2 separate regions of the Homo sapiens genome follow, and region 1 is linked to region 2. A link means that fine-mapping ties the variant in region 2 to the expression of a gene that starts in the linked region. Tissue or cell type: nasal epithelium. Region 2 holds a variant in brackets; the other region holds the start of a gene. All regions are shown on one strand. Distances are between the middles of the regions.

Region 1 (11,929 bases), 20 kb after region 2:
GAGCCTCTCTCTGTCACCCAGGGACTGGAGTGCAGTGGTGCAATTTTGGCTCACTGCAACCTCTGTCTCCTGGGTTCAAGCGATTCTCCTGTCTCAGCCTCCTGAGTAGCTGGGATTACAGGTGCGTGCCACCACACCTGGCTAATTTTTGTATTTTTAATAGAGACAGGGTTTTGCCATGTTGGCCAGGCTGGTCTCAAACTTCTGACCTCAGGTGATCCACCTGCCTCGGCCTTCCAAAGTGCTGGGATTACAAGCGTGAGCCACGGTGCCTGGCTCTTTTCCTTTTCTCTTACCCCTCATCCAATACATCAATGTATTATATTGGCTCAACTTTCAAAACGTATCTGGAGTCTCTGTGCTTCTCATCCTTCCAACACTACCATCCATTAATCCATTAACCAATTATTGCATTAATCTATGAATGGGTTAATGCATGCAAGAGGACAGGGCCCACATCACCCAAACATCTCTTAAGGGTCCCATCTCTCTACATTGCCACATTGGGGATTAAATTTAAATATGAATTTCGGAGGGGACAAATATTCAAATCATAGCAAGTTGGTATCATTTACAATAAAATAGGTAGGGGTAACCTAAGGAAGATGTGTAAGACCTCTACTGAAAATTACAAAACATTACTGATAGTAATTAAACATGAAATAAGTGGAGAAATGAAGGGACAGACCATATTAATACTTTATAAAGCCCAATATTGTTAATACTTCAATTCTTCCCCAAAATGATCTATAGAATCAATGTAACTCCTATCAGAATCCCAGTATCTTTTTCCCTCTCTTTCGTTCACTCCCTCCCTCCCTCCCTACTCCTTCCTTCCTTCCTTCCTTCCTTCCCTCTTTCCTTCCATCTTTGCTTGCTTCCTTCTCACTTTATTTTTTGGGGGGATGAAAATCAGTAATCTGGGCCAGGTGCGGTGGCTCATGCCTGTAATCCCAGCACTTTGGGAGGCTGAGGCGGGCGGATCACCTGAGGTCAGGAACTCAAGACCCGCCTGACCAACATGGAAAAACCCTGTCTCTGCTAAAAATACAAAATTAACCGGGTGTGGTGACGCATGCCTGTAATCCCAGCTACTCGGGAGGCTGAGGCAGGAGAATCGCTTGAACCCGGGAGGTGGAAGTTGTGGTGAGCCGAGATTGCGCCATTGCACTCCAGCCTGGGCAACAAGAGCGAAACTCCGTCTCAAAAAAAAAAAAAAAAAAAAAAAAAAAAGAAGAAGAAAAGAAAAGAAAACCAGTAATCTGGTTCTAAAATGTATATGGCAATGCAAAGGACCTAGAATAATCAAAACAATTTTGAAGAACAAACCTAGAGGACTTACACTCTCCAGATATCAAGACTTATTACAAAGCTACAGTGATTAGAACAGACACATAGATCAATGGAGCAGAATCAGGAACCTAGAAATGGACCCACACATTTATAGTCACCTGACTTAGAGCAAAGGTGCCATGGCAATTCGATAAGAAAGTATGATCTTTTAAATAAATGGTGCATGGCCATCAACTAGAGATCCACATATTAAAAACAAAGCCAAGCCTTGACCTCTACCTCATACTGCACATGAAACTATTTTGAAGTGGAGCATAGAATTAAATGTGAAAGTCAAAATAATAAAATGGCTGGATGTGGTGGCTCATTCCTGTAATTCCAGCACTTTGGGAGGACGAGGCAGGAGAATCGCCTGAGGCCAGGGATTCCAGACCAGCCCGGGTGATGTAGCTGGGACCTCCTCTGCATTAAAAATAATAAAAAAAAAATTAGCTGGGCGTGGTGGCATGCACCTGTAGTTCCAGCTACTTGGGAGGCTGGGGCCGGAGGATCAGTTGAGCCTGGGAGAGGGAGGCTACAATGAGCTGTAATCACAGCACTGCACTCCAGCCTGGGTGACAGAATGTAAGACTTTGTCTCAAAAAATAAATAGATATATTAAAAAAAGGGGAAATGAATTTAATGAAAGGACTGCTCAAGAGTATAGCACTCATTGGATAAAAATGCTTGTATTATTATTTTTATTTTAGTAATTAATAAGTCTGATCTTTGATTTTTTGAAAAGTATTGGCCCAGTGGATCATCAGAGTTCACTACTGGGATAAAAATCTCTGTGTCACACAGTATCTCCTACGACTACTCCTAAATGACAGCAAAATACAATCCATGTAGTTCCCAATATATGAAGAGCTTCTGTTCTCAAAAACATTTTCAAGCATTTTTTGTTTGTTTGTTTGAATACACTGTGGGCTTCTGGGAACCAGTTTTGAAATTCTTTCCACTATTTATGACACTGTTCTGTGGAAAATGTAGTCCCCCGTTATCTGGGGTTTCTCTTTCCTGTTTTGATTACCTGTGGTCAACCGTGGTCTGAAAATAGTAAATGAAAAATGTTAGAAATAAACAACTCATAAGTTTAAAATACCATACCATTCTGAGTAGTGTCATAAAATCTTGCACCTTCTTGCTCAGGTGGACATGAATCAGCCCTTCGTCTGGTGTTTCCACACTGTATACACTGCCCACCAGTTAGTCACTCAGCAGCCCTCTCCGTGATCGGATCAACTGTCAAATATTACAGTGCCTGTTTTCAAGTCACTCTTATTTTACTTAATAATGGCTCCAAAGTGCAAGAGTAGTCATGCTGGCATATTGTTGTAATTGTTCTATTTTATTATTGTTGCTGTTTACCTCTCACTGTGCCTAATTTATAAATTAAACTTTATCATAGGTACATATGCGTAGGAAAAAAACATAGTAAATATAGGGTTTGGCACTACCCTCAGTTTCAGGCATGTGCTGGGACTCTCTGAAGGTATCCCCTGGGGGTACAGAGAGACTACTATACTTAAAATTCCAGTAGAACACATCTTCCCCCTTCTCCGCAGCCACAAGAAAACAGGCACTAGGTGATGGGGCAATAGTCACGGAGACCAGCAGCAGCTGGAGGGAGGTGTGGGCAGGACTCAGGACAAGCAAGGCAAGGGTAACAGTAGACTGTTACCAATATACTATTAATTGGTCTTCTCTTACTCTTCACTTTCCTTGGCTAGAGTTTTACTCTTAACTGGGTCCTAAATATGATCTGTGAGCATCTAGATTATTACTCATTCATGAAATTTGAGTTGGAGTAGTCGCTGGGTGTATATAAGGTCCTTCCAGAGCCAAAACATGATTCCAAGCCATGATTCTTGTTTTCAGAGTTTATAATGTTTCCAGCCCAAATTTCTCTTCTTAGCTCCGGAAGCATATTTTCAACTGCCTCATAGACATTTCTGAATGTCCCACAGGCAGTTCAAAATCAACACATAGCTACTACTCTCCCGATCTCATCCACTCACCCAGTTATCCTCCTCTATTTCCTATTTCATTTATCAGTAGCTCCAATCACTGTCACCCGCCCCCACTCAGAACCTCCGAAATCATTTTGGTCTTCTTCCTCTCCATCACCTCTCCCATCCAGAATTAACTATGCCTTCTAAATCTTTCTCAGATTGCTCCCTTCTTCTCTTCCTTATTTCTTCTTCTTTTTTTTTTTTTTTTTTTTTGAGACGGAGTCTGGCTCTGTCGCCCAGGCTGGAGTGCAGTGGCGCGATCTCAGCTCACTGCAAGCTCCGCCTCCCGGGTTCACGCCATTCTCCTACCTCAGCCTCATGAGTAGCTGGGATTATAGGCGCCCGCCACCACGCCCGACTAATTTTTTTGTATTTTTAGTAGAGACGAGGTTTCACCGGATTAGCCAGGATGGTCTCAGTCTCCTGACCTCGTGATCCACCCGCCTCGGCCTCCCAAAGTGCTGGGATTACAGGCTTGAGCCACCGCGCCCGGCTTTCTCTTCCTTATTTCAAACTTCATTTCTCATCTGAAGGATTGCAAGAGCCGCCTCACCCATCTTCCAGCTTCAAAACCTCTCCTAGTTCAAATTCATTCCTTACACTTTCAGTCATCTTTCCAAAAATATAAATGTAACCTAACTCCTGTTTTAAAACTTTCAATGGCTCCTCCATTCACAAAAACAAAAATTCAAAATCGCTCAGAATTAACTTCAGGTCTCAGCTCAAAGGTCAGTTCCTCTGAAAAGCCTTCTCTATCTGAAGTTGGCCTCCACCACAACTCTAATGCCTGGTTTATTAATGCCGCTTATCACCATCTATAATTCCTTTGTCTGTTTATGGAGTCATTATATGATCTCCCATCTCCCCCTACTTCCTTTATTTTTGAGACATGGTCTCATTCTGTCACCCAGGCTGGAGCGCAGTGGCATGATCTTGGCTCACTACAGCCTTGACTTCCTGGGCTCAGGTGATTCTCCCACCGCAGCCTTCAGAATAGAGGACACAGGTGTGCACCACTATGCCCCTTATCTTCTGCCTCTCACTTAACTTTGCAGCTTTATTTTCACCACTCCTCACTAAATATTTTGTGGTTTAGTCACTTCAAAAGTTTCCCTTTCTCCAAATAAATTATTTGCACGTTTTAATTTTTATTTATTTATTTATTTATTTCTGAGGCAGAGTTTTGGTCTTGTTGCCCGGGCTGGAGTGCAATGGCACAATCTTGGTCCACTGCAACATGTGCCTCCTGGGTTCAAGCGATTCTCCTGCCTCAGCTTTTGAGTAGCTGGGATTACAGGCGCCCACCACTATGCCCGACTAATTTTTGTATTTTTAGTAGAGATGGGGTTTCAACATGTTTGCCAGGCTGATCTCCAACTCCTGACCTCAAGTGATCTTCCAACCTCAGCCTCCCAAAGTGTTGGGATTACAGGCGTGAGCCACTGCGCCCGGCCTCATTTTATTTTTAAAAATTGTTCTCTTTACCTGAGATGCCCTTCTACTCCTTCTGTCCACTTACCAAACCCTAACATATCAGGACGTGTCTGAAGTGACCTCTTACATGAAGTCTACCTTGACTCCATCCTCAATCCTCAATATTGTTCCTTTTAAATGCCTTAGGCAAGTAGCGTGATATCTAGCACATTCTAGGTACTAAATATTCATCAGCTGTGCTATCTAGCTGCCTCATTCTATGGAAGGCTGAAACAAAAATAGTTTGAAGCAATTATAGACCAAAAGCATGGATGTTTAGCGTCCCTCTCTTCACTGCCTTCTGAGATGCCTGGCAGAGGACAACATAAGCTGAAAAAGTCCCCATTCTTTTATTCATAAAGTACATCGTTAGTGCATTTTTTTTTTTTTTTTTTGAACAATGTCTTGCTCTGTTGCCAAGCTAGAGTGCAATGGCATGATCAGGGCTCACTGCAGTCTCAACTTCCTTGCCTCAGGTGATCCTCCCAACCTCAGCCTCCCAAGTAGCTGGGACTACAGGTGTGTGCCACCAAGGCCAGCTAATTTTTTTGATTTTTTTTTTTAGTAGAGACAACGACTTGCCACGTTGCCCAGGGTGGCCTAGAACTCCCGAGCTCAAGGAATCCTCTGCCTCCCAAAGTGCTGGGATTACAGGTGTGAGTGAGCCACTGTGCCAGGCCCCAGGGCATATCTTTACAAGCTGCTTTGAAGTCCATAGCCTTAATACATTATTGAATTATCTGGATCTCAGATTTTCAGTCTTTTAGGGACAACTATGCTACTGGGTCTCCAGCCAAAGCCACCTTGATGACAAGAGGAAAAGAGACTAAATGGAAGAAATGACAATCAAATATAAGTCTGTTTGCAGATCAGCACTATTTAATGGAAATGAAGGCCACATATATAACTTAAAATTTTCTAGTGGTCACATTTAAAAAAACAGGTAAAATTAATTTTAATAGTATATTTTCTTTTTTTTTTTTTTGAGACAGGATCTCGTTCTGTCAACGCAGGCTGGAGTGCAGTAGTGAGATGACGACTCACGGCAGCCTCCACCTCCCACTCCAGGGATCCTCCTACCTCAGTCTCCGGAGTAACTGGGACCACAGGCAGGAACTACCATGCCCAGCTAATTTTTTTTTCTTTTTTCTTTTTTTTTTTTTTTTTTTAACTTTTTGTATAGACGGGGGTTTCCCTATATTGCCCAGGCTGGTCTCTAACTCCTGCCCAAGCGATCCTCCCACCTCAGCCTCCTAAAGTGCTGGATCACAGGTGTGAGACACCGTGCCCGGCTTACATTTTCTTTACTGCAATATATCCAAAATATTTCAACGTGCAATCAATATAAAAAGTGATCAGTGAGGTATTTCACATTCGTCGAACTGACACCCGTGCGTATTTTGCACTTCCAGTGCCTCCTAAACGAACTAGCCTCATTTCAAGTGCTCAGTGGCCCTAAGTGGCCAAGGGGCTACACTAATGGACAGGGCAGGTCTAGGTCCTGTGTTTTTCCCATTCGGAGTCACCAGTCCTACTAGACATTCTGTGAAAAAAGGGAAAGCCTTTGTGAAACTTCCTGAGGACTCACAAATGCACATTATTACATTTAGAGTTTAGAACTTTGGTTAAGGCAGCGTCCTGTATTTGATTCTTTCCCTCTTCCTCTCCGCTAACCCCCTATGTGACACCGTAGAACTTATAATTCGTTCTAATTCGCAGATGGAGGGCATATGAGAGAGGAGGCTCTGCCTCAAACACTTTCTCAAACTTTTGCCGAGGGGTGGCGAGAAGGTAGACTTCCAGGTCCCACCCGATATAGATTAAGGGCTGGAAACACAGTCAAGGGGAAATTATGACCAAGACAACCTTTGCTAAAATGCCAGCGGTGACTGCCATTGATGTTCCTATAAAAGGTCAGCTCTGTCAGGAAGTTCCAGTGCATCATTTGTTCAAAAGTAAAATCAGCCCGTGTTCCAGAATTCGCGGACTGTCGTCAGTCCTAACCTACACATTTATTCGTTCAACAAATATTTCAGCGCCTGGGTCAGGCATCAGGAATACACTGGTGGTTAAAACAGACGGAAAGCTCCATCTGGTGGGACGCAGTCTGGGAGGGAAAGGGAGTCCTGGGGACATGTTTTCGTCGGCTCTAGGCTAAGCACCTCTCGCCGTAGCACACGGGGTCGGCACCGCTGCCCGGCGAAGTACTTGTTACTTTGCAGTCCAGTACGAAGCGGCGGAGTAACCGGTTCCAACCCAAGGCAGCGACTCATGCGAGTCGTTCTAAGCGCCGCGCTGGGGGGTACATACGGTGCACGCGTGGGTGCCTCACCCCCTGGCAGCGCCTCCAGGGACGCTGCTCCGGGAAAGAGCAGCCGCCGCGACCTCAGGCGGCGGGAAAGGTGGGACCTCACAATGCGCCGGAAGCGGTGCCTCGTGGCTTGGGATCTCTCCGGGTTCTTCCTTGCGCCGTCCACGCCGCACTGCCCACGAGGGCGTCCCCGCCCGAGGGACAACTCACCGCCCGGGGCCTCCCTGAGCGTTCCCTTCCACCATCTGACACCCACTGCTAAGTGTGAGAGGACCCAGGGGGTAATTGCCGGGCCGCAGGCGGCCTTAGGAACTCCGCTTCCCGTGAGGCTTCGCGGCGGACGGCGCTGGTGCGCAGGCGCACGCACGGCGTGCGTGGTGGCGTCAGCAGTTCTAGAACGTTGCTGTGGTAGCGCTCGGGCGCCATGTTAGGACGAAGGGGAAGGAGGAGAAGCGCTTAAAGCGGCGGGAGCGGTGCGGGAGAGGGGTTGGACCCAGGGCTGAGGCAGGCCCCCCCCTCCCTCCCGCCTCAGTGGATCATGCCCAGGGCGGCAGCGGCGGCGGTTGCGGGGGGGAAGTGACTGGGCGGTGCCGGCGCCGGAGACGATGCCGTTGTAAGTAATTTGTATTCTGTTTTCTTTCGCTCGCCGGCTGGGCCTTGGGGGGCGTCCGGGAAGGGGAAGAGGTAGGCGGAGAGGGTGGCACGCGAGCCCGACCCTCCCCGCTGGTAGGAGGCAGGCAGGACTGGGGACCTTCCTGTTTCCTCGCTCGCTCGCCGCCGCACTTCCCCCCGTGTGCTGGGTTCCCGCGTCCCCCGACCCTTCCTGGCTGGGTCAGCTGCCGTCGGGCCGGGGGCCTTCCCCTTCCGGAATTGCTGGCGGAACCTCTAACTCGCCCGGCCACTCCAGCTTCTCCGCCCCGTCCACAAAGAAAATCAAAACAACCCGAAAACAAAACATTGCCTGGTGGTGGGGAACCACGACCCTGCTGCACGCGGGATCAGCACTTGGGGTTCGGGCTCGCTCTCGGCGCCCCTCGGGCCCATTCGATGTTGCTTTTCTGTTCCTGGTCTGTCTCAGTTTGCTCACTCTCTTCCTCCCATTTCCAGATGCCTGTCTTGTGCGCCGGAGTTAGCCCCTTTCCACTGACCTTGTCTGAATGTAGGAGCACGAGTTAAAAGCCCAGCTTTGAGCGTTGAGTCCGCCTGCCTCCACCTCCGCCTCCCTAGCATTCACAGGCGGTCGGAGAAGGGGGCACTTCACAGGGTGCCCTCCTCCAAAACGACTTATGTATTGCTTTCCCTGTTTTGTTTTGATGGGGTAACCAGGTTTCATTCTGTTTCCTTCTTTCTCTATCTCTGGTGATACTTTTTTTTTCCTGGTTGTAAGGCTTGAAGCTAGTCTCTTTATGCTTTCTAATGCCACTGCGCCTTTTTCTTTTCTTGGTGGGTTTTTAAAAAGTTTTTTTCTCCCCTCCCCCTTTCTGATAATGAGATATAATTTGGCAGCTCATTGCCAGTAGATTACGGATTTTTTTTTTCCTGCAAATATACAGCATTGTAGAGGCCTAAATAGTGAGACTGCATTTCTTCCATTTTTGAATATTGAAGCGTAAGAGTGCCTCTTTGAGACCAGGGACCGAGTTTTCTTCATCTTAGTAGCCTCAAAACGCAACATGTAATTGACACTCAAAGTTTTGGTTAAATTCAGGATAAAGATTTTTGTGGTTTCTAGACATCGAATGTAGTAACTCAGGTCTATTTTTTTTTTGTAAGTAAGGATAATTTCTTTAGCACATAATCACCGATTGTAGTTTTACAATTATATATGTGTGTGAATGTGTTTCTTTACAGGTGAGACTCTAACTTTGGCACAGACCTTAATGACTTCTATCGCAATTTATGTATTTTAAAAGGATTTTCCATGGCTCCCACCCACCCCCTTAGGTTATTAAGAAGTCTATCACATTACTTCTGTGATGAAAACGTTTGTTAGACTTAACTAACTATACAGGTCTAAAATCTTGGAATCTGCATGGTTTCTGTTTATTGATTTTTCCCTTTCATAGAATAAGAGACCCTAGGAGAACTGAGTCTAAGCAAGATTGTTGTGGTGTTTCTCAGTTCAATAGGAGATAAATGTTTGCAGTGATGTCGTGATGACTGCGTTATTAAGTTAACATTTTGCTGTCTTTGAAAAGGGACTTCTTTTTCTGATAATCATACCAGCATTAAAAATGATAGATGTAAACCTTAAAAGGCTTCAATGAAGAAATAACATTAAGTAATTTGTGTCTTATTTCTAGGAATTAAAAGTACTTTTATACCTACTTTCCCCCAACATTCTTTGAAGAGGGAAGGTATACATTTCTGTGAAAGACCTTAGGTATTTCAAATTCTTCGCGAGTTAGTTCAAGTGTGTAAAATGGAAGACGGGGCCAGGCGCGGTGGTTCACGCCTGTAATCCCAGCACTTTGGGAGGCCCAGGCAGGTAAATCGCTTGAGGCCAGGAGTTTGAGATCAGCCTGGGCAACATGGCGAAACTTCATCTCAACAAAAAACACAAGTTAGCTGGGCGTGGTGGCTCATGCCTGTAATCCCAGCTACTTGGGAGGTTGAGGTGGGAGGACTGCTTGAGCCCAGGAGGCTGAGGCTGCAGTGAGCCTTGATCATGCCACTGCGTTCCAGCCTGGGTGACAGAGCGAGACTCAAAAAGTAAGTATACGATAATTACTGTAGTAAACAATAGAGAGACCAAAGAATGCCTAGTTAAAGAAAAATAGGGCTTCTTCCTCATTAAGTTGCTTTGTTTTTCATGTACTGCTGTCACACTGTCATAAATGTTGTTTTTTTGATGTGTTGGATTGTGATTTCCCGGCTATATTGTGTTTGGCTTTCATTTTTGGTATACCTGTCCTAATGTTAAATTTGGATGGGTGAGTGGCATTGGGGCATGGACCCTAGGTGAGTTGTCGGAATGAATTTAAATCAAAATTATCGAAATTTAGGATATTACAGAACATTTTGATCAAGTGTCCATATTTTGTCTAAATTTCATATGTAGCTACAAACATACTTTTGGAAAGATTATAGTCTGATTTAAGAGTCATGGTGGTGAAGCTTCTGAAAGTTTTGATAGTCTTTGGATCCATTAAACAGTTTCTCACCTAGTCATTATTGACATTTATGCCAGATTCATTCCTTGCAGGTGCCTGTCCTGTGTATTGTAGTTTAACAGCAGCCTTAGCTTCCACCTACTGGATTCCGGGAGCTCCACCCCTCCATTTCCCCAGTAATGACAATCAAAAATGTCTCCAGATATTACCAGATGTGCCCTGGGGTGCAAAATCTGGTTGAGAACCACGGCATTAACGAAAAGTGTGATGCCCTTATGGAAACTAGATGTATTTCTGCCCTACTCTGTGTTGGTCAGATATTTTTGGCATCAGCTCAGTTCTGAGTATCACACATATGATAAAAAGGTGTGAAGGAGAGTAACCAGTATCAGTAGCATTTATGCCACATGCATAGAATGTTGTCAAAGTTACCAAAAAGAGTTACTGCAAGGTTTAGGCGAGACAATAGCAAAAATGTTTTCGGGGGCTGCACAAAAAAGAGGGAATTGTAGTAGTTTTACATCGCCATAACAAGCAGAACTGGTACCTGCTGGTGGATGGTCTGTGCTTCCCAGAGCGGGATCTGTGGATGCTTGGGGAGGGGGACCACTGAGATCTTTCAGAGGGTACATAATGTTCAAACTATTTTCATGTTATTGAGATGTTTTGTCTTTCAACATTTGTACTTAACGGTGCAAAAGCAGTGGTGGAAAATGCTGTATCCATCATAGGAACAATCAAGGCAGAGAACCGGTATTGTATATAGTCATTTCCTTCCTTCCTTCCTTGCTTGATTCCTTCCTTCCTTGCTTCCTTCCGTTCTTGACGGAGTCTTGCTCTGTCGCCGGGCTGGAATGCAGTGGAGCGATCTCGGCTCACTGCAACCTCCACCTCCCGGGTTCAAGCGATTCTCCTGCCTCAGCCTTCCAAGTATCTGGGACTACAGGTGTACGCCACCACGCTCAGCTAATTTTTGTATTTTTAGTAGAGACGAGGTTTCACCATGTTGGCCAGGATGGTCTCGATTTCCTGACCTCGTGATCCCCCCCCACCTCGGCCTCCCAAAGTGCTGGGATTACAGGCATGAGCCACGGCGCCCGGCTGTCATTTTATTTCTTGAAGACTGCACACTCATAGTTTAAAAAGCTTTTGATGAAACAGTAAAAGGAGGTTAATTTTATTAAATCTTGACACTTTGTTTATTTAATGTACTGTGACCACGGAAAGTACTTGTGAAGCTGTATACTGGGGAGTAGAATGGTGGTTTTGAGGAGCACTTGTATGTTGATTTGTGAGCTAAACTGGTGTTCTCATGGAGCTCCATTTTTATCTGAAAGAACAAGTGATGAACTGTGGATATTCATATTTGAGTATTTAGGAGACTTAAATGAGAATAAAGCAAGTCTGTCACTCCAAGGTAAACAACTGACTATTCCTGGCCAGTGAAAAATTGGAGCTTTCAAGCAAAATATAGAATTTTAGAAAGCTTGCTTTTCCATCATGAGCTTGACGGTTTTTCCCAATACTTAAAAGATGTTTCTGCTGACATTGGTGGTAATATTAATGCATATAGTTTTAATGCTGTATAATGTGTGCTTAAAAAAAGAATGTTTTTTAATATTTGGTAGACCTGTATAATTCAGTGAACCCATATTTTCCAAATGACCATTTGTGATGTAATAAAA
Region 2 (11,929 bases):
TTGATTATTAAATTCTAGGTAGGTGTGTCCAGTGCATTTTGTTTATCACTTCTAGGCAATATTCACTCATTGCAAACTCTGTGCTAAATCATAACACCCATAACATCCAGGCAGCTGGATACATTTCAGTTCAACTGGCAATTGGTCGTGCACAATTTGTCATGTGCCAGGCACTCATTGAACCTTTCCACAATCCTGCAAGGCAGGAATTACACCCATGTTTACCCAATCCAGAAGCTAAAGCCTAGAGATTTATGCAAGTCCACTCACTAGTAAATGGTAGGGGGATTAAATTAAAACTCAGGTCTTCTCACTCCACTGCCTCCAAAACAATTAATGAAACCTGCCTGTGAGATAAGGAAATGGAAGCACAGAGGTCAAGTGACCAAGGACTCTTAAACGTAGGCCACTGGACTTTCCATTCTTTGTTGGACACAGTGCAAACACGTCTAAGACGTAATCTATTTGGAACGTTAATCTGTTGTTAGCAAACTTTTCAGAAATTGTCTTTATTTTCTATTTCTCTGAAAGAAAGTAGGGCATTGTTTCATTCGTACTTGTAGGATTTTAATTGAGGGAGGGAACTGAATGGTGACATAGAGAGGTCAATGCCATTGAAATAATTTACACTTAGGATTCCCTAGAGATGGGGGCACATGGGGAATGCCAGGTTTGGTCAGGCGGCAGAAGCAAGAACAAGGGGAAAGGTCTAGATCAATGCCGTTGTTGGGGTTTCTTTGGGAAAGCCAAGACAGGCCACAGTGAACCGTTCGGGACTGGCTAGTTTGAGTTTACGGGTGGTCTCTAGTTGCCTGGGGCCTGGTCCTGGGATGATTTAGGGCAAGGGAAATACTGGCTTGCTGTGTGAGATTAGATAAATGGATTGAGTGGCTTGCATAGGAGGGGCATTCCCAAGCAAGTTGTTACTATCTTTAGGTATTGGCTAGGCCTGGGAAGGACAGCAGTCTCTCCCCAGATCTGTAAGGCCCCCCTGAAGATGTCAAAACAGACCAGGTGTGGTGGCTCACGCCTGCAATTCCAGCACTTGGGGAGGCTAAGGCAGGAGGATTGCTTGAGTCCAGGAGTTGGAGACCAGCATGGGCAATATAGCAAGACCCCCATCTCCACACACACAAAAACATTCTTAATTAGCTGGGTGTGGTGGCATGTGCCTGTGGTCCCAGCTACTCAGGAGGCTGAAGTGGGAGGATCTCTTGAGCCCAGGAGGTCAAGGCGGTGGTGAGCCTTGATCATGCCACGGCACTTCAGCCTGGGTGACAGTGAGACCCTGTCTCTTAAAAAAAAAAAGAAAAAAAAAAAGAAATCAAAGCATAAGATACAGAAAATAAAAGAAACACATTCCAATCTATGGTAATACAGTTCTAGATGGTATTCTCTCCCATTGAGCAACCATTGCATTTTACCACTGCTGTTAGCCTATGTCCAGTTTGATTCTTTGAAGACCTCTTGGTTGAAGGAGATAAGTTTAAAGTTGTACCTACCTGATTAATATTTGGAAATTTGTTAAAACATAGCTTTTTCAGCCCAGCGCAGTGGCTCACACCTGTAATCCCAGCAATTTGGGAGGCCGAGGTGGGCAGATCACCTGAGGTCAGGAGTTCAAGACCAGTCTGGCCAACATGGTGAAACCCCATCTCTACTAAAAATATAAAATTAGCCAGGCACGGTGGTGCACGCCTATAATCCCAGCTACTTGGGAGGCTGAGGCAGGAGAATCACCTGAACCCGGGAGGCAGAGGTTGCAGTGAGCCAAGATCGCGCCACCGCACTCCAGCCTGGGGGACAAGAGCGAGACTTTGTCTCAAAAAAAAAAAAAAAAAAACCATAGATTTTTCATGTGATTCCAGATAGCCAAATACAGTGACCTCCTTGTTATCTACGGTCTTACCAAGCAGAAATCTATTACTCGCTATCCACAGTTAGCCAGTGCAAGGACAATAGATGTTCTGAATAACTGTCTTGAGATACTGCAGAATCTTGAAGTTCTCTGAGTCATAAAGAGAATGAACATTTTTTTAAAAATCATCTAGTGAGAAGTATATTTTATCATATTAAAAATCTTTGAAAATTGGAAAGCCAAGGATGTTACTCATTATTTGATTAACTGGAATCTTCCACCTCCTGATCAGCCTGGAAGAAAGATAGAATATATTTTTGAAATTCATAGATTATTAACATAGTTCATACATTTTCTAACAAATGAGTATCATGTTAGGGAAAAATCTAAAAAGAAAATAAGTTTTCATATAGATGTCCGACATCATAGAGCTTAAATGGATTCAATTTTCAGCGAATCTGTTGACATCCTTTTGATTTCAGTACCGTACCAGCATTTGAGGCTTCATATGTCTACCTTCCTTTTCAAAAGGCAGCCACTCATGAAAATCATGACAATCAAATGGTAAAAGATGAGCAAAAAATAGGAACAACTTACTTGCGAAAACACCTCTTGTATGCAGAATGGAGGTAGTATCAAACTATTATGAATTTATAGGATCTTATTCCACACGCTGTCTCAGCCTTTGTTTTCACAGTTAACATCTGCAGCAGATGATGTTCACACATGTCCACATGCCTCGGGGACACACCTCCTGTGGGCTTTCCCCATTACACTTACCTTTTTCACCCACTCAAGGAAGCTTATTAGAATGCAAGTAAACGAGAATGGCATTATGATGTTATAAGCCAATACAATTTTAGAACAAAAATCAAATCATTCCCAAGTTCTGTTGAGCTCTAATAGATAGCAAGCTATTTGTGATGCACCCAGACACTGATCTGGGCACCAGTATACCCTGCTCCTGTAGTTGAGAACATCTAAGAATCACAACTCACCTTGGAAAGTTTATTTCACTGATCCACACTTAAATCTCTCATTCACTCAACAATTATCTATTGAATTTGTACTAGAAGCTGGAGGAACAGCTGCTTTCACAGTTTAAAAGAAAATCACAGATGGGTAAAATGGTCATCATTATTAACATGATCTGTGTGTTGAATTTGATAAGTGCTGACCATAACATGTTGTACGTAAGTGTTTCATAGCCAATGGCATTGATGAAAGAGCTGGATCCATGAAAATTCCAAGGGGAGTTCCCATTTTATTAATTTGGCAAACTGGCCATCAAAGCATTTTGCTTGTAGCCATAGCTCTCTTTGGAAGCCTGTGATAATTGTGCTGGATAGGAGGCAGCGTGAGGCCAGGAGCCGTGGCTTATCCCTGCCAGCACTTTGGGAGGCCAAAGCGGGAGGATTGCTTAAGGCAAGAATTTGAGATCAGCCCGCACATAGTAAGACCTTGTATCTCTCTAAAATAAATATACATACATATAAGTATGTATTTTTTAAAAAAGAGAAAAGAGACAATGTGAAAATTAACTAGGAAGCTGATATCACAGGGTTATCTGAGATTTGCTACTTATGATTTCTGCTGCTTTTATTAGTTAGAAAGGGAGGAAGGAAGGAAGGAAGGACAGAGGGAGGGCGGGGGAAGGGAGGGAGGAAGGAAGGAAGAGAGGGAGGGGGGAAGAAAGGGAAAATAATAGATTGCACAAAATACTAATTGGGCCTCATAGGGTGGTCTCTGGAAATGGGGTGATTTTCATCTATTTATCCTCCATGAGAGGCAGCAAAGCCAATTGGACAGGCTATTTGTGGCAACAGGAGGTCTTGGCTGGTAACCAGGGGGCCATGCGTTCTCCAGCACCCTGCTAGTTAGCTGCGCTGTATTGTGCCAACTCTGGAGTCTGTCCTTCTCCCCAGAATTCGTTTGTGCACTGGATGCTTCGGATGAGTTTCTGAAGGAGCGTGTGATAAACCTTCCTGAGAGCATCGTGGCGGGGACCCACTACAGCCAAGACCGATTCCTCCGGGCTCTGAGCAACTACCGGGACATCAATATCGACGATGAGACTGTCTTCAACTATTTTGATGAACTTGAAATTCACCCGATACATATTGGTATGAAATGAATTCAAGGATAATGTGAATGTCCAGGACCCCCAGCAAAGCTTGGTGCAGGTCTAGCTGTAATTGTGGGGCTGGGGGGAGGGTGGGGAGTGTAATCATGGGTTGGGGCACAGGAAGCCATGAAATACACAGGGCACTCCTCCTGGGGAGTCATTCTATGTGGGGATTTGGTGGTGGGAGGGTGTTATTATCGTATGAGAATTTATGGATATATTGTGAAGTCAAATGACAAATCCTTTTTTTTTTTTTTGTGGGGGGATGGAGTCTCGCTCAGTTGCCCAAGCTGGAGTGCAGTGGTGCAATCTTGGCTCACTGCAACCTCTGCTTCCCGGGTTCAAGCAATTCTCCTGCCTCAGCCTCCCAAGTAGCTGGAACTACAGGCACATGCCACCAGGCCTGATTAATTTTTTTTTCTTTTTTTTTGAGATGGAGTCTTGCTCTATTGCCCAGGCTGGAGTGCAGTGGCACCATCTCGGCTCACTGCAAACTCCGCCTCCCGGGTTCACGCCATTCTCCTGCCTCAGCCTCCCGAGTAGCTGGGACTACAGGTGCACACCACAG[T/C]GCCCGGCTAATTTTTTTGTATTTTTAGTAGAGACGGGGTTTCACTGTGTTAGCCAGGATGGTCTCGATCTCCTGACCTCGTGATCTGCCCGCCTCGGCCTCCCAAAGTACTGGGATTATAGGTGTGAGCCACCGTGCCTGGCCGACAAACTCTTTTTTTTTTTTTTTTAAAGAAATGTGTGTATGGTGCTGGCTGCTTGGGCCATTCCCCCAGGTTCCTTGGGAGCAGTGTTCTGTCCCTGTTAAATTATTGGGCACTGGTGCTCTTCCAGACCCTTTCCCAGCCTTCTGACTGGCCAGCCCATCCCCGTAGCTACCCAGAAGAGCAAATAGCTCTTCACTGCGTTCCTTCTTGTTTCCTGTAAACACAGCTCTGAGCTTAGCACACAGCAAGCACTCATGATCCCGCATCACGTCAGCCTCATCGTCACCATTATCATTCCTGGCTCCAGTTCTCAGCTTTCACAGCTGCTGCTACTTCCCTTGGCTTGTTGAACCCCTGACCTACCTTTCTGGTTTTCTGGACCTTCGCACGTATTCCTCCTATGGGCTTGGTGAGAAAGAACCAGCTTCTGCCTGGTGGAAGCTTCCTGGCCAGGCCCACACCTTGGGCCTCCAGGGGCTGCTCTCTACCCCCAACTGCCCAATGGGACAGCATTTGAGCCCTGGAGTATCGGGAGGCTTAGTGCTAAGGGATAATGTCAGCAGGAGGCAGGAGAGCTAATTCCAATTGTGGCTGGGCCTCAGTTTTCTCATCTGTGAAATAGGAAAATAATCAGGCTTGCAGGATTGTTACAAACGGTAGAGATGAGAGATACGAAGTGCCTGGCACATTGAAGGAGTTCAACAAGTGGTCATTTTGTTATTCCTACCAACACTAAGGCATAACATGACATACTATTATGAAATAAAAAAATGACTGGGTGCAGTGCCTCACGCCTGTAATCCCTACACATTGGAAGACCAAGGTGGGTGGATCATCTGAGGTCAGGAGTTCAAGACCAGCATGGCCAACATGGTGAAACCCCATCTCTACTAAAAATACACAAATTAGCTGGGCGTGGTGGTGTGCACCTGTAATCCCAGCTACCCAGGAGGCTGAGGCAGGAGAATCATTTGAACCCAGGAGGCAGAGATTGCAGTGAAGTGAGATCATGCCACTGCACTCCAGCCTGGGTGACAGTGAGACTCTGTCTCAAAAAAAAAAAAAGAAATACAAAAACAATTTATAAATCTGCAAATTCTTCTTGTCTGCACCCTCAGAGCAGTGACTGGGTTTTGTCCTCATCTGGACATGTTTCTGCATGTTGGACATGCTTTATATGTAAAAGCTAAGGGTTCTGTACCTCCTAATATGGAAATTAGTTTACATTATTTAGAGAACTAGGAAAGAATGGAGAATACATTTCAGAAAAATAGTGATTGTCATCTTTTCAGTTAGGTCCCAAAAACTGTTTATAGGAAGATCAGGAGAGCCCAGGAGAAATGTTGAGAAAAAAAATAAGTAACAGGGAGGAATGAATGAGTGGCCATTGTGTTCCATCTCATCCTGTGCCCATCTCATTTGGCCTCATCTACAACTGACAACTGGGAGATAATATAAAAGCAGAAGGGAGAAATGTATCCTAAGGATGGGAGATGGGGAGGGCGTCTCACAGCCAGGGATGCAGCCCGGCCTCTGCAATGTCTGGAATGGGGCCCTGGAAAGATGCTGGGAATCACATCCTCTCATCAGCTCTGGACTCTGCTTCTCTCTCAGTGTCTCTTTGTCCTCTCTTTCTTTGGGCCAGTGTACTCTCCCCCTCTGTGGCCTGTGTGGTAGGCTGAGGCCACCCCACACCCCAGAGTTACAATGCTACCCTGGGAGCCAAGGCCAGAGCTGACTTCACTGTGTCCAATCCCACATTCCCTGAAGGGCAACTCTGCTGGTCACAGTTCGGGCTGAGGTGCCCCACCCCAGTCTAATCAGCAGTGGCCCCACTCTGGGGTCAGAGTGGAATATTGCTAGGGGGAATCATTCCCAAGTACCTTCTCAAAGGTGTCCAGTTAGTGATATCAAGGTTGTAACTACTCAGAGTAATCAGGGAGAAATGCATTTATTTATTTATTTATTTATTTTATTTATTCTTTTTGAGACAGAATCTCCCTCTGTCACCCAGGCTGAAGTGCAGTGGCGCAATCTTGGCTCACTGCAACCTCTGCCTCCTGGGTTCAAGCGTTTCTCCTGCCTCAGCCTCCCAAGTAGCTGGGATTACAGGTGTATGCCACATGCCCAGCTAATTTTTGTGTTTTTGGTAGAGACAGGGTTTTACCACGTTGGCCAGGCTGGTCTCAAACTCCTGGCCTCAAGCAATCTGCCCATCTCGGCCTCCCAAAGTTCTGGGATTACAGGCGTGAGCCACCACACCCAGTGAGAAATGCATTTAAATGTCACAGGTCAGGCAATGAGGAGCTACCGATATGACTTTTACCTTTTTTTTTTTTTTTTTTGAGACAAAGTCTTGCTCTGTCACCCAAGCTGGAGTACAGTAGCTCAATCTCAACTCAATGCAACCTCTGCTTCCCGGGTTCAAGTGATCCTCCTGCCTAAGCCTCCCAAGTAGCTGGAACTACAGGTGTGCACCACCACACCAGGCTAATTTTTGTATTTTTAGTGGAGATGGGGTTTCTCCATGTTGGCCAGGCTGGTCTTGAACTCCTGACCTCAACCTACTCGGCCTCCCAAAGTGCTGAGATTACAGGTGTGAGCCACCATGGCCAGCTGTTTTTTGCTTTTTTAAAGGTTTGCTTCTGTTCACCAACCAGTGCACTGGCTCTGCTCCTCCCCTCTTCCCATATTAGAACTTGGTGGTGCTTCTGGTCTAGGTCAAGGTCATACAAACATGGGAGGGGTGGCGGCTCATGCCTGTAATCCCAGCACTATGAGAGGCCAAGGCAGGAGGACTGCTTGAGCCAAAGAGTTCAAGATCAGCCTGGGCAACATGGGGAGACCCTGTCTCTATAAAAACAAAACAAAACAATAAAAAACAAACATGGGAGGGGTGGGCACAGCAGTGACTATGAATGGGCGTGGGGTAAGCAGCTACCCAGAGGAAGGTCTGAAGGGGCTTAGTACCAAAATGTGTCTGCTGCACATCGTTCTCTGCAGACACCTTCCAAGCAGCCCTAAGAGAGTGGCATAGAATTTACCACCTCAGTGACCGTGGAGATCTCAGTATTTATCAATACACCATTTCTCTTTTTCTTCTCTTTGGTCTTGATACTAACATTTTTCAGATATTCTGGAGTCTGGATATTTTTCCTATTCAAGTAGACTCACTGAAATGGTTATTTTTTTATGAATTGAAAATGTATCCCAGTATCATTGATTTTCAGAAAGGTCACCCTGTTTGGCCTCCCACAAGTGCAGGACTTCCTTCTGTAGAAACCTCTGAAAGAAGTGTCCCAGTCTTTGCTTGAATACTTCCAGGCATGGAGAGCTCATTACTTTTCAGGCAATCCATTCCCCCATTCAACCACTCAAATCAAGTCATTGTTAGAACTCATAGACCCAAGTCCAAATTTTCCTACCCACAGCCCTCAGACTCTGGTCTGATATTTGCCCGTGAGAGAAGAAATTCTGAACTATGCTGGCAATTAGAAAAGAAAACCCTATGTGGTAATTTACATAATTGACTATCGCAAGTTTATAGTAATAAAGAATTTTCCCAATTGCAGGCAGGCCTAGAATATAAGTATGTGTTGATCTCTCTCCTGGTATTTAAAGATGTAGGAAAACTTGAAGATGCTCAGAATAGACTTGCTATCAAACAGCTCATCAAAGAGATTGGGGAGCCTCGAAATTATGGTTTAACAGACGAAGAAAAGGCAGAAGAGGAGCGGAAGGCTGCGGAGGAGCGGCTGGCCAGGGAGGCTGCTGAGGAAGCAGAACGCGAGCACCAGGAGGCCGTGGAGATGGCAGAGAAGATAGCTCGCTGGGAGGAGTGGGTGAGTGGTGAGTGTGTTTGTGAGTCTGTGTATCTGTGGAACAGGGGTGCGGTGCCTGGCAAAGCCATTTAGGCCAGTTCCACTTCCCATCCTGCTCTAGGGAAATGTCATGGAAATACCCTAAACAAATTTGTGTTTGCTTTTTGTCATTTGTACCATTTAAAAAAGGATATCCATGGTCTTTTGCTTAGTTTTTTTTTTTTTCTTTTTCTTTTTGTTTGAGACAGGGTCTGGCTCTGTCGCCCAGGCTGGAGTGCAGTGGTGCAATCTTGGCTTACTGCAACCTCTGCCTCCCGGGTTCAAGTGATCCTCCTGTCTCAGCCTCCCCAGTGGCTGGGACTACAGGTGTGCACCACCAAGCCCAGCTCATTTTTCTGTTTTTAGTAGAAATGGGGTTTCACCATGTTGGCCAGCCAGGCTGATCTCAAACTCCTAATCTCAAGTGATCCACCCGCTTCTGCCTCCCAAAGTGCTGGGATTATAGGCATGAGCCACCATGCCCAGCTTGCTTAGTATTAGTAACAAAAACTAGCCATTAGCAGGTGTATTAGTAATACAAATTCCTGTAAATGTGTAACATTTTACTATGCATTGACCTCATGATTTGATTTGATTTTCCTCCATTTACCCATCTAACCTACCCAGGTGGTCAGCTTCTTTCCACCCCTCCTCATTCCCCAAATCACTGAATCTAGTAAGTGATTCTGCTTCCAAAAATAGCACTCTTAGGCTGGGCATGGTGGTTCATACCTGTAATCCCAGCACTTTGGGAGGGTGAGGCTGGAGAATCATTTGAGCTTAGGTATTCAAGACCAGCCTGGGCAACATAGCAAGACCTTGACTCTACTAAATAAAAATTAGCTGGGCATAGTGGCATGCCTGTAGCCCCAACTACTAGGGAGGCTAAGGTGGGAGGATTGCTTAAGCCTGGAGGATTGTTTGATCCTGGGAGACTGAGGCTGCCATGAGCTATGATGATGCCACAGCACTCCAGCCTGGATGACAGAGTGAGACCCTGTCTCAAAAAACAAACACCACCATCACCAAAAATGGCACCCAAATCTGTCCCAAGCTCTCTACTTCTGATCAGGGGCAGTGTTTCTCATCCGAATTACGCAGTGTCTTCTCACTGTCCTCCCCAACTCCACCCTGCTCCATCTCCAGTCTGTTCCTACGCAGCTGCCAGGTGATCCTTCCAAACTGCAGACCCACTATGGCCATTCTCTGCTTACAACTCCTCACAGGCTCTCAATTATCACAATTTGATAAAAATCCAAACTTGTCATTGTGGTCAAGGTCCTTTGTGACCTGGCTGCTTCTGATATTTCCCAATTTCAAACAGTGCACCAATGGTGGTCTTGGTCATCTGCATGACTCATTGCCTCACAGACACCTGGCATCTTTACCAGAAGTTGTCTTTCTAGTGAGGCATTTCCTGGTCTCTGTAAAATTCAATGTCTACCCCTCCCCACAACCTGTCACATCCCCTTTTATACTTTTTAATTTTCCTCTTTGTACTTACTCTACCTATTATATACATTTTATGTATTTATCTTGTTTCTTGCCTTTTCTCTGCACAGAACTTAAGTTACATGAGGACAGGGATGTCTGTGTTGTTCACTACCATATATCCAGTGCCTAGAATAGTGCCTGGCACATAACAGGCACTCAACAAATGGAAAGAAGGAAGGAAAGAAGGGAGAAAGGAAGGAAGAAAGGAGGGATGGAGGGAGGGAGGCAGGCCCAATGCACACATCTTTGGGTGCCTGATTAATCTTCTTAACATAAATTCCTAAAGTTTGCTGGGTCAAACTAGACATGGTTTGAGTTTTGATACATATTTAAAAACTGCCCTCCAGCAATGGTAAACCAGTTTATGTATCATCTAACAGGTGGCTATTTCCCTACACCTTCTCTAAACCTGCTTTCTCAATTTTACTCGCACATGTCAGGCTGATAAAAACTGTTCTCATTGTTTTAATATTCATTTCTCTGATCACTAATCTTACAGCTTTTTCTGTTTGTTAAGCATTTATGTTTCTTCTCATGTTGCGTATTTTCTTTGCCCCTGTTTGGGCTGTGTGACTTTTTCTTATTATTTTGCAAAAAGAACTCCTGATAAACTAGTTCAATAGAAACAGGAACGGCTCCAGTTGGCCTCCCAAGTCGTGCTGCTAGAGATCAAATCCCACTCCACTCTCTCTGTAGGTATGTGGCCTTGTGCAAGCTCCTGTCTGTGTCTCAGTTTCTCCATCTGTAAAGTGGGGATAATGATAGCACCTACTTCATACAGTCATTGTGGTGACTAAAGAGGTAATATACGTAAACTATGCACGTGCCTGGCAAGTAGTGTGCATCACATAGTATCCTCATCACATCTTAACTTTTTAATAATGTATTGCAGTTTTTCTTAATTCATGATTTATTTTTTAACATTATTTATGGTATTTTCTCTGACCACACAAAAGTTTCATGTTTATATGTACTCAAATTCACCCACCTGTTTCCCATTTTGATCTCTGGGTTGGCAATCTTGCTAAGAAAGACCTCCTTTCAAACAAATATCAGCTAGGACTTTTTTTTTTTTTTTTTTTGAGACGGAGTCTTGCTCTGTCGCCCAGGCTGGAGTGCAGTGTTACGATCTCGGCTCACTGCAAGCTCCGCCTCCCCGGTTCACGCCATTCTCCTGCCTCAGCCTCCTGAGTAGCTGGGACTACAGGTGCCCGCCACCGCGCCCGGTTAATTTTTTTGTATTTTTAGTAGAGACGGGGTTTCACCGTGGTCTCGATCTCCTGACCTCGTGATCCACCCGCCTCGGCCTCCCAAAGTGCTGGGATTACAGGCGTGAGCCACCGCGCCCAGCCCAGCTAGGACTCTTTATCTTGCAAGTGATAGAAAAGCAAACTCAAAATGACTTCACCATAAAGAAAACCAGAAAAGTCCAGGGGTAGGGCTGGCTTCAGGTGAGGCTTGATATAGTGGCTCAAATGATGTCACCAAAGACTTAGGATCCCCCTCTCTGTCCTGCCTTGCATGGGAGGCTTCATTCTTAGGTGCACCTACCATGCATGGCAGGGCACTTGATGTGCTGATCTTTAACTAGAATTTTTTAAAAAGACAAGTCAACAATTTACAAGTTATTATTAGTCATGTATTTGTACTCGTACTGTTTACAATTTAGGTATTGTAAATTGTAACCAATTTTGATGTTGTGCTGATCCTTAATTAGAATCTATGGCCAGGAGCTGGCTGGATGATGGGCTTAAATCCCACTCAAACCAAACCACTAGGCTGAGAAGGGAGATTTCTCAAAAGAAATTTGGAATTATGATTCCCAAGAGAGAGGGTGGCTGTATGCTGAGCAAAGAATTGCACATGTCACTATCCCAAT

Evidence for each region. PIP is the estimated chance that this variant, and not a neighbour inherited with it, causes the effect.
Region 1: it holds the start of PAPOLA-DT, and the variant in region 2 is fine-mapped to the expression of PAPOLA-DT in nasal epithelium (TOPMed, PIP 0.99).

The regions. Positions count from the first base shown.
Region 1 is chr14:96,494,857-96,506,785 of GRCh38, forward strand. PAPOLA-DT (PAPOLA divergent transcript) reads right to left here and starts at 7,470. Exons shown (of 1, transcript NR_122121.1): 1 at 6,792-7,470. PAPOLA (poly(A) polymerase alpha) reads left to right here and starts at 7,526. Exons shown (of 22, transcript NM_032632.5): 1 at 7,526-7,744. The coding sequence starts at 7,737. RefSeq lists enhancers at 6,231-6,827, 6,828-7,422, 7,340-7,599, 7,423-8,018, 9,174-9,675 and 1 more and silencers at 6,938-7,281, 7,720-7,839.
Region 2 is chr14:96,474,682-96,486,610 of GRCh38, forward strand. It overlaps AK7 (adenylate kinase 7), which reads left to right. Exons shown (of 18, transcript NM_152327.5): 15 at 3,784-3,981; 16 at 8,318-8,538. Among named protein-coding and RNA genes, the nearest start is that of PAPOLA-DT, 22 kb to the right of the region's middle. The variant T/C (reference allele first, on the strand shown) is at 4,552.